Linked DNA regions of Homo sapiens: region 1 is linked to region 2. Evidence: fine-mapped expression QTL. Tissue or cell type: monocytes after R848. Region 2 holds a variant in brackets; the other region holds the start of a gene. All regions are shown on one strand. Distances are between the middles of the regions.

What was found. PIP is the estimated chance that this variant, and not a neighbour inherited with it, causes the effect.
Region 1: ODR4 starts here. The variant in region 2 is fine-mapped to the expression of ODR4 in monocytes after R848 (Quach 2016, PIP 0.95).

What each region holds. Positions count from the first base shown.
Region 1 is chr1:186,373,500-186,378,383 of GRCh38, forward strand. It overlaps ODR4 (odr-4 GPCR localization factor homolog), which reads left to right and starts at 2,339. Exons shown (of 14, transcript NM_017847.6): 1 at 2,339-2,475. TPR (translocated promoter region, nuclear basket protein) reads right to left here and starts at 1,754. Exons shown (of 51, transcript NM_003292.3): 1 at 1,379-1,754. The coding sequence starts at 1,529. RefSeq lists a silencer at 889-938 and enhancers at 1,499-1,798, 1,959-2,008, 2,179-2,368.
Region 2 is chr1:185,474,232-185,479,115 of GRCh38, forward strand. It overlaps LOC107985239 (a long non-coding RNA gene), which reads left to right and starts at 3,782. Exons shown (of 3, transcript XR_001738340.2): 1 at 3,782-4,847. The variant GTGTGTGTGTGTGTC/G (reference allele first, on the strand shown) is at 1,897.

The DNA of each region.
Region 1 (4,884 bases), 900 kb after region 2:
AACACATGTACATACATTGTGAATACTGTTATTTATTTCTAATAACCTTGATTTTAAAACTTAAGATACAGTATTAGAATTGTGCTCCACATAAGAGAATCTGAGTAAAGATAAATAGACTGAGCACTGAAAAGGACTTAAAGCATTTCCAAACGACTTACATGACAAAAAATAAAAAATAAAAATAAGGCCTAAAAGGGGCTTTACAAATCAATGTCTTCAAGGCAGGTAACCTCATTTATCTTAGTATTTTCTCCAGACATCAGTAAACTGCTTAATAAATAAAGTATTTATTACACGAGAAAAAATTGTTTAGACAAAAAAAAACTCCTTTGTTTTAAAAGACTTCTTTTATAGTAGTCAAGATATTACCTGAAAGCATAAAACTACTAAATATATGTAAAAGTAAATGTGTAAACTTTCCAAGGGAAGGGATTGAATATCATGTTCAGCATAGTATCAGGAACATGTAAGACATTCAATATTTATGGTGCAAATTAATAAATAGAATGCAATGTACTATACTCAGCTCTGGGATCAGAGAACTAATTTTCAAGGTCAATTCTGCTTGACAGTTACACTTTTTTTGAAGTAAAAACTTGTTCAGAATTTCCAGTCAACTTAGCAAGAACAGTATGAACCTCCCCAAACAAATGGTAAACCAAAACACATTAACGGGAAGTTTGTATTTTACTAATGGTAATGACTATATTCTTCATATTTTTTTCAAGGATGTTCAAGCCATTATTGTCAGTAACTTTCTTACTTAAAGGCCTACTTTAGGTAATTACAAGAAAATTTTAATGTTTTCTATCAAACTCCAACTTTTTAAGAGAAATCAAGATATATTAAATTTATGTACTGCACATTCACTGTGTTTCCAGCGCTCTTATGCACCTAATATTCATTTTTGTAAACATCTGATTCGTTCTGGAGCCACGGGACGACGCACACACTAAGAACAAGTGCACAGAGTGGTCAATTTGGCAAAGGCCTAGAATGCAGGTGCCTAGAAAATAGGGCGGAGCCACTATCAGTTGAAGTGCAACAAAACATATAAGGTACTCTAGGCTTAGAGAGATGGGTTCGCAGACTCTATCAAGTCTGTTTCCCGTCTGCCGGACGAAGGAAAATAAGCGTCCCTGTATGAGCCTACCCTAACTACAAAGAAAATGCTACTGAACTTAGATTCAGATTTTTTTTTCAAAGGCTTCTTATCAAACTGTAAGGAGCAGGAAAGCGAAGGCTCAGGATATCCACAGAGCCCAGGAAGTGAGGTTAACAGAGCGGTACCCAGTGCCAACTTGATGGGGGAAGACCAGACCCAAAGGGCGGGAGTCGAGCCCAAAACCAAGGACGGAAAGAGCATCTCACTTACCGCTCTCCACCTTAAATTTCTCATGCCGCCCCTTCAGGCCATCGATCTCGGATTGCTGATCAGCAAGGAACTTTTCAAGTTTGTTCTGGACAGACTTGGGCAGCTTGTTCAGCTCCGTGCGCTCCAGGACTTGCTGCAACACCGCCGCCATGTCGGTGGGGCCAGGGACCCCAGTGGCAGCGGCCGACGGGGTAGAAGCGGAGAAGAAAGGCGAAGACCAGCAGGACCCAGACGCCTGGGCCGCCGCCTCTATCACCTCGCTCGGTGGCTCGCGCGCGCCCGCCCGCCGGAGACTCCCGCGGCGGGACCCTGGGAAATCGAGTCCACCCTCAGCGGCAGCGTTTCAGCAACAGCACCTCACCGCCCGCGACCGAAGTGCGCGCGCAGCCGTTGGAAGCTACGAACCCTGGGAACCCGAGCTCAGAGGCTATCCCTGATCCTCTTGCGCACCCAATTTTCCGGCTTCCAGCTCCACCCACTTCAGGCCTTGTAGGGCTCTGGGAAATGTAGTGTTTTTCTCATTCTTTTCCGGGAGCCCAATGCTGCACCGCCCTCTCAGCTTCCGTTTTTCTCCCCGCTCCCCTGGCTCTCCTATCTCGGCCCCGTAACCGCTGTCCGCACGGTGGCGCCACATACGTACTCGTCACCCCTTGGCCCTCCCTGAAGAGCTGGTGACCTTACCGTCAAAGCCCCGGGATGCCATGGATCGTCCTCGTTGGCGGCTTCTGGACACTGAGCCACTAGAGGGCATCGGTCCCGGTAGGGCCGGACGGCAGGCTCCGGGATACCGCCACGCTCTCTATGGCGCCCAGAAGGGGGCGGGGTGGCGACCGCAGTCGCTTTGGCTGAGGCTCTGCGGGGAAGGGAGGGGGGGCTTTTACGTCATCAATCTGCGCCACCTGACTCCCAAGTCCCTGGCTTTGGAGTGGGAAGTGAGGTGTGGGAAGTAGGTCGCTTTCTGATGAATTCAGTGGCAGTGAATTGAGACCGGAGGGAATCTGGCCCCTAGAGGCTGGTACTTGGGCCCGAAACCCCCATCTCCGGCGGAGAGACCGTCCGAGGTAATTGTCTGCCACGAGTGCACATTCTGAAAACAGGTAAGTCAGCCTAAGTGTAGTGTGTGTGTGTGTGTGTGTGTGTGTGTGCTCTCTTTTCAAGAGAAAAAGGAAGGGACAGTGTTGGAACCATATGGACAGTCACTCCGGCACACACTTCTGACGAACTTACCTTGTGTGAAACGGCGTACCTAAATGGTTTTTGGTGGTGGGGAGGTGGCACTGAGTGATTCAGTACCCGGGAATTTAAGGACCCGGGTTAATTCTTCAGGAGGAGAATTAAAAGAAACCGGTAGCACTTTGAGTGTAGCCTATGTTTTAAATTTTTCGTTGCAGAAACGGTTACCTAACATTATATTGTTTTTAAAATTGAAAACTGTTGTAACTGAAGTTTTTAAACACATTGTTAATTTCTACAGTAACAGAACTTGTATGGTTCCAGATCATAATTCTGTAGTTTTAAAGCTCAATCCGTAGATTGTTTCGTGTTTACTCTTATGAAAGAATTTGTTAAATTATTCATTGTAAATAATGCATTCCCAGTGTCGTCTCTCTGCAGTTCCCACAGTCGTGGGCCTTCTGTGAATTGGTGATTTAGTTCTTATATGAAATTTATTCTTTTTCTCTAGTTCTTACTTTTGAATCATGTTGTGAAGCCGTCTAAGAAATATAAATGGAAGCATTTTATGATATTTTGTAATAACTAAGGAAAAATAAATCAACAGCGGAGCTTAAGGTTGATTTTTCCCCAAAAATATTTTTTAGATAAGCATTGTAATTAAAGTTGCTGGTATATGAAGTATTATGCTATGTCCTAAGCCCACAGTATTATCATACTGTTGATCTGTCATTTGGGAAATGTAGATTTTTCTGTACTTAGATTCACAGAATCCTAAAATTAGATAGGTTTTCAGATCTGCTAGGATTCAAATGCTTTATTTTATAGATTAGGAAACCAGAGCCCAGAAAGGTTGAGTTGTGTCAGTCACAGTGCTTGGACCACAAAGGCTTTGGCTGATATACAACATTTCTGGAAAATTATGACCCTATAAGGCAAAATACAGTTGTCCCTTGGTATCCGTGGGGCATTGGTTCCAGGACCCTCTCACCTGCCCACCCCATGGATATGAAATCCATGGATGCTCCAGTTCCTTATATTAAATGGTGTAGCATTTGCATATCTTAAATCATCTCTAAGTTACTTATAATACCTAATACAATGTAAATGCTATAGTTGTTATATTATATTGTTTAGGGAATAGTGACAAGAAAAAACATCTTTAATGATACAGATGTAATCATGCTTTAAAAAAATAATTTTTCAATCTGTGGTTGGTTGAATACATGGAAGTGGAAACCACAGATGTGGAAAGCTGACTATATACATTTTTAGTACTGCCTTTTATAAAGTATGGTTGACTACATTTAAAAATTTTGAAAGAGCACTAAAGAAAAATTTATCTGACATTCAATCAGATTTCATAATTGAATAGATTTTCATCTCCCTATTACATTCAGTTTCTTACACATTAATATGGCTACTAGGTGACACCCTAGAAGAAATAAGGTTAAAAGGTTAAATATAACTTTAGAATTACTTGTATTTGTTGCAAGAATTAAGAATTATTAGACCAGAAGGAAAAGGAGTATAATATGATATAGAGGAAAGTAGATACATAGAATTGCATACCTTAAGGCATTACTAAAAGGTAAAAGCCCTTAACTTCACAGAGGCAACAGTGATATTTAGACAAGCATTCCTAGACTTAGTCTCTAAAAAATGATATGCAAATCTGATTCACGTCTATTGTTGTCAAAAAAGAGCTAGGAAGGCCAGGCATGGTGACTCACACCTGTAATCCCAGCACTTTGGGAGGCCAAGGCAGGCAGATCACACGGTCAGGAGATCGAGACTATCCTGGCTAACACGGTGAAACCCCGTCTCTACTAAAAATACAAAAAATTAGCCGAGTGTGGTGGCGGGTGCCTGTAGTCCCAGCTACTTGGGAGGCTGAGGCAGGAGAATGGCGTGAACCTGGGAGGTGGAGCTTGCATTGAGCCGAGATCGCGCCACTGCACTCCAGCCTGGGCAACAGAGCAAGACTCCATCTCAAAAAACAAAAAAAAAAAAGAGCCAGGAAGAAATTAATGTATTTTGAGACAAAACTGAACAAGCTCATTGAAACAATAAGGAAACAGCCTCCAGTAGGACATTTCAGACTTGAATCCATTCTCTGGGCTTTAGTTTTAAAATGCAAAACCGTTTTGTGACTGACAGTTTACTGGTATCAGATATACCACCCCAGCATATCTCTGGTAGCCTTAACTTTGTGGTACTGAATAAGATTCACATTTTTAACAGAATCCAAATGATGATGATTCCTAAATTGCAGTGTTCAAAATACTGTAACTGTGTTCCTGCAGTCTCTGTTTGTTTTATAGCTCTTTTGG
Region 2 (4,884 bases):
GGACTACTATAGGCTGCAAAGCTAGAAAACTAAGTTTTACATGTACTCCATCACTTTAAAAAATAATTAAATACAATTTTATAGTATATAAGTTTTATACTAATTTTTGCAACAATTAATAATTTTACTTATTTGATTCCTCCAGGAAATCCTCTTGTCAACCTACCCATCTCAACCTGTTTTTCTCTCCCCACAATGTCTCTAGTTTGGATGCTCTCAAGTCATCTGGCTTTATTTGACCATTCTTTAAAAAATGGCTTGAACTCTCATTTCTCACACTGAAAAAAACCCAGACCTGTTTCTATCTCTGACGGAATAGGGGGTGAGTGTGTCAGTGAGTCTACCTTGCAGCCAATAGTCTACATTAATGATGTGGTTCAGAGCCCAGACACTGGAGCCAGATTGTCTGTGATTAAATCCTGATTCTACCACTTCCTGTGTGACTCCAGTCAGGTTATTTAACCTCTCTGTTCTTCTGTTTTCTCATCTGAAAAATAGAATAATTACTGTGTCTGCCTCTTAGGCTTGTTTCAAGGATTAAATGAGTCAAAACCTTAAGAGATTGTTAGGAGAATTGAATAAGTTAATATATATAAAATACTTAGCAGTGCCTGCCACATAATGAACATTATACAGGTGTTTATTACCATTCTTTCCATAGCTCATTTTTCCATTGTTTGCTGGCTCCTCCCTCCTGCAGCATAATCTGCTGTTGCTGCCACACCTTTTCTGCAGTTTTGCCTCATGGCAGAAACCAGCCTTCTTTCTTCATTCTCTTTTAGGTACTGCACATACAAGGCTATTGTGAGTAACAATAATAGTTAACAATAATAGCTAATGTTGACTACCAGTGTTGACCTTGTACTAAGCACTGTCGTAAGGATGTATTTTACATCTATTGGCTCATTTAGTTCTCATACAAACTCTATGAGATAAACATAGTTCTTATCTCCATTCTACAGAAGAAGAAACTGAGGTACAAAGAGGTTAAATAACTTGCCAAAAGTTTCCCAACTAGTACATGAGATAAAGCCAGGTTTTAAACCATCATTTACTTACCGTTTTCCTGGCATTTGTATGTACAGAGAAGTATCTATTTTTTTTTTCTGGTGAGTGATATCGTTATATTACTCTGCTCACTTGGTGGGTCACATTTTTTGTCAATGCTGAAGAGGATGGGGCACAGAAAGAGGGAGATGGAATCTTTGTATATCATGATGAGCAGAAAGAAATGGCTTAAATATGCTGAACGCCAACTGTGTGCTTGGCATTGTGTGATGCCCTCCATTTATGTTCTCTTAGGGAATTCTCACAACCACACTCATTTATTATTATTGTTACTTTATAGGGGAGGAAACTGAATCTCAGGGAGGTAAGGACTTGCCTCTGGTTAAGATGCTCATGAGTTGTGAGGACAACCTAGAGTATGCACCTAGAGTATCACCCCTAGAGTTTGCATCTCTAGGGCATACTCTTTTCACCATATCATCTTGTATCCCTCGAAGTTAACCCCAAAGCCTTTCTGTTTTCCATGAAAACTCCATGCCCTCAATTAGTTCAAATCAGTAACTTTTTCTTTTGGTAGTCCTTTCCCCACTCTTTTAACCTCTCTGATTTATCTCTTCTTTAAAACTACTTTAACTGACATCCACAAGTATTAAAGTGTCTACAATGTTAAACTTAGGTGGAAGTCGCTACATAGATTAAGGATGTTTATAGAAATTTTTGACTTTATTATTCGAAGGGCCATAAACATGAAGGTAGTAAGTGTCATTAAACTTTATTAATATCCATAACACTTGGTATGATAATATTACAAGATGTTAAGGCACAGTCTCTGCCCTTGAGGTGGTCACCTTGGATAGGAGGAGTGTGTGTGTGTGTGTGTGTGTGTGT[GTGTGTGTGTGTGTC/G]TGTGTGTCTGTGTCTGTGTTGGGGGGTGGTACCATTTCTCAGGAAGTTCTCCATGAAGCATGACTATCAGGACCCTTTCTAAGTCAACTCAAAGCAACCACCTTGTTGAGCTGCTTTGTTTGCTGTTGCAGATTGTTTTGGAAATGTGTTTTAAGTATTTCTGTCAGACAATAAAGACAGTCTGTAGGCTTGAATTGTTTTTGCAAGGCTGATTAGCTTAACTGCCCAACAATTATTATATTCATGTTAATGTCATTGGTGTTGGGATGTTACTGGAGAACTCTGGATTGCCTGTCTTTAAGCCATGTACACTCCCCCATTGGGTTTTTAGAACTTGCTGGTTAGCAATGGTGAGTTTGCCAGAAGCTGATGAATTGTAGTCATTACTTTTACGTTAATGTGCTCTCAAGGTGACTTTCTTTAAGCATTTTGATTACTATGTGGAAAAAAAAGGAGTGTTGAGACAAACTGCTGTGTAACAAATTACTACAAATTTATTGGCTTAAAACCACACCCATTGATTCCCTCATAGTCCTGGAGTTCAGAAGTCTGAGCTGACTTGACTAGGCTGTCTGCTCAGGGTCTCACAAGGCCAGAATCAAAGTGTCATGAGAGATATTGCACATGAGAACTGTTTTGTCCTCTCAGATGTAGATTATATGACTGTTTTAAGGAAAATCAGTATCACATGACTTGATACTCACAGCTGACCATTTAGCTGTAGAGGTTTAAGAGGATGAACATTTTGGTATTCCATCTAATTTGATGCAACTGAGTCTTGGTATTTATTCAGACAACATAATTTCTTCTCTTAACCAGCAGACCATTTTTTTCCTCTGACATTTTAGACATAGAATGGATACATTTAAGTTTGGCTTCAAGCACTGTATTGAGAGTCAGCATATCCAAAATGGACTTTCAGCTCTGCAACTTGTGCAAATGATTTTTCTTTGCCTCCATTTTTTCCCATAAAGATATCAATACTATTTTTTACTCTTTAAGTGTATTTTATTTTGCAAAATGCATGTTCAGAAGACTAGCGGGTAGTCTATAGCTTCTTGATGTTACTCTCTTTCTTCCTAAGCCCATGTTCATTTTAGATCATCACACTGGGAGAAGTATCCTCTTTGTCAGGTGGCTCTGCATGCACTATCCCTTCCTTCCATCAGTCCCTTGGTCACCTGGTGCAATAATGTCATGTAACATTTGTATTGTACTTTACAATTTGTAAAGGGAACACAACCTATTCACTATCATATTTAATTATTTCCAAAATTCTGTGAGGTAGGCATTATTTGTATTTTACAAATGGGATGAATAAGATCCAGAAAATTAAGTGACTTGTTTAAGATCACATAAGAAACAGAGCCAGGCCTGGAACTCAAGTCTTCTGAGTTTCAATCCAGTGTTGTTTCTTCTATACCCCAGATAAGCAATAGGACAAGCTTGTCCAGCCTGTGGCCCACGGGCCTCAGGCAGCCCAGGACAGCTTTCAATGAGGCCCAACACAAATTCGTAAACTTTCCTAAAACGTTTTGAGATTTTTGTTGCAATTTTTATTTTTTAGTTCATCAGCTATCATTAGTGTATTTTGTGTTTGGCCCAAGACAATTCTTCTTCTACTGTGGCCCAGGGAAGCCAAAAGATTGGACACCCCTGCAATAGACAACAGGACTCACAGAAAGAGACAGCAGCACGTAAAATAAATTTCAGGCTTGCGAAATGACTTCAGTTTTTGGTGATTCTCCTTTCTTGCATTTGTTTTGGCTCAATTTTTGACCCTTTTAATTTTTCTTCTTGTTTTCCTAGAATCCAAATTAGCATATTGGCTTTGTTCTCATGACTGTCAATATTTGTCCTGGGCCATGGCCAAGGAGGAAAGTGACAGAGGGCAGAGACTATCTAGTGTCAAAAGCAGTTGCAACAGTTCCACATTGGTCTCAGATGTTTGCAATTCTGTGTTTAGTGTTGTTGCTCACTAACAGCTGAAGTCTGAAAAGGGAAGGCATTTTATTGGAGGAATTTCTCAGGTATAGGCACTTCTCTAAGACCTATGCCTTTGAGATTCTGCAGACTCCCTTCACAATTAGCAGAAAATTTATGCACAAAATTTTCCATACAAATTAAGGAATTTACTCATCCTTAGCACTGTCTCCAAGTCCCATACCAAATTCAATTATTCATGTATTCAATAATTCCAGAAACAGTTAATTGAATAGCAATGTACAATGGTGGATAAGAGGTAAGGCTCTGAAGCCAGCCTGCCTGAGTCGAAATCCAGGCCCTGCCTGGGAGACCTTGGCAAGTAAGGTCTCTCTGTGCTTCATCTATAAAATGGGGAAGATAATAGAGCCTACCGCACAGGGTTGTTATGAGGATTGATGGATTATTAAATGTGAAACACTTGGAACAATGTCTGCCACTGTAGTATGCAAGATTCCTTAAATGCCCCTCAAAGATGTTCTCCCCTAATCCCCAGAACCTGGGAATATGATGAAACATCACTCCCCCTTGTTATGCAGGCACAATTGAGTTAAAATAGGAGATTCTCTGGGTGGGCCCAATCTAATCATACGAGCCCCTTTAAAAGCAGAGTGCTTTCTTCAGGGGCTGGTAGAGGAGGAAGTCCGGGAGTTTCCAAGTGTGAGAAGGACTTGATGTGCCATTGCTGGCTTTGAGGAGAGGGCACCAAGTGAGAAGGAATAGACACCTTCGGAGCTGATAGACACCCCGGCTGACAGCCAGCAAGGAAATGGAGACTCAGTTCTACAGCCTCAAGGAAGTAAATTCAGCTAACAATGCGAATGAGCTTAGAAGTCGATTCTTCTCAGAACCTCCCCATAAGAGCCCAGCTGGCTGACACATTGACTTCAGCCTTGTGAGATTCTGAGCAGAAAATCCAGTCAAGTCTTCTTGGACTTCAGAACTACAGAATGGTGAGATATGACTGTGTGTTGTTTTGAGTCACTAGGC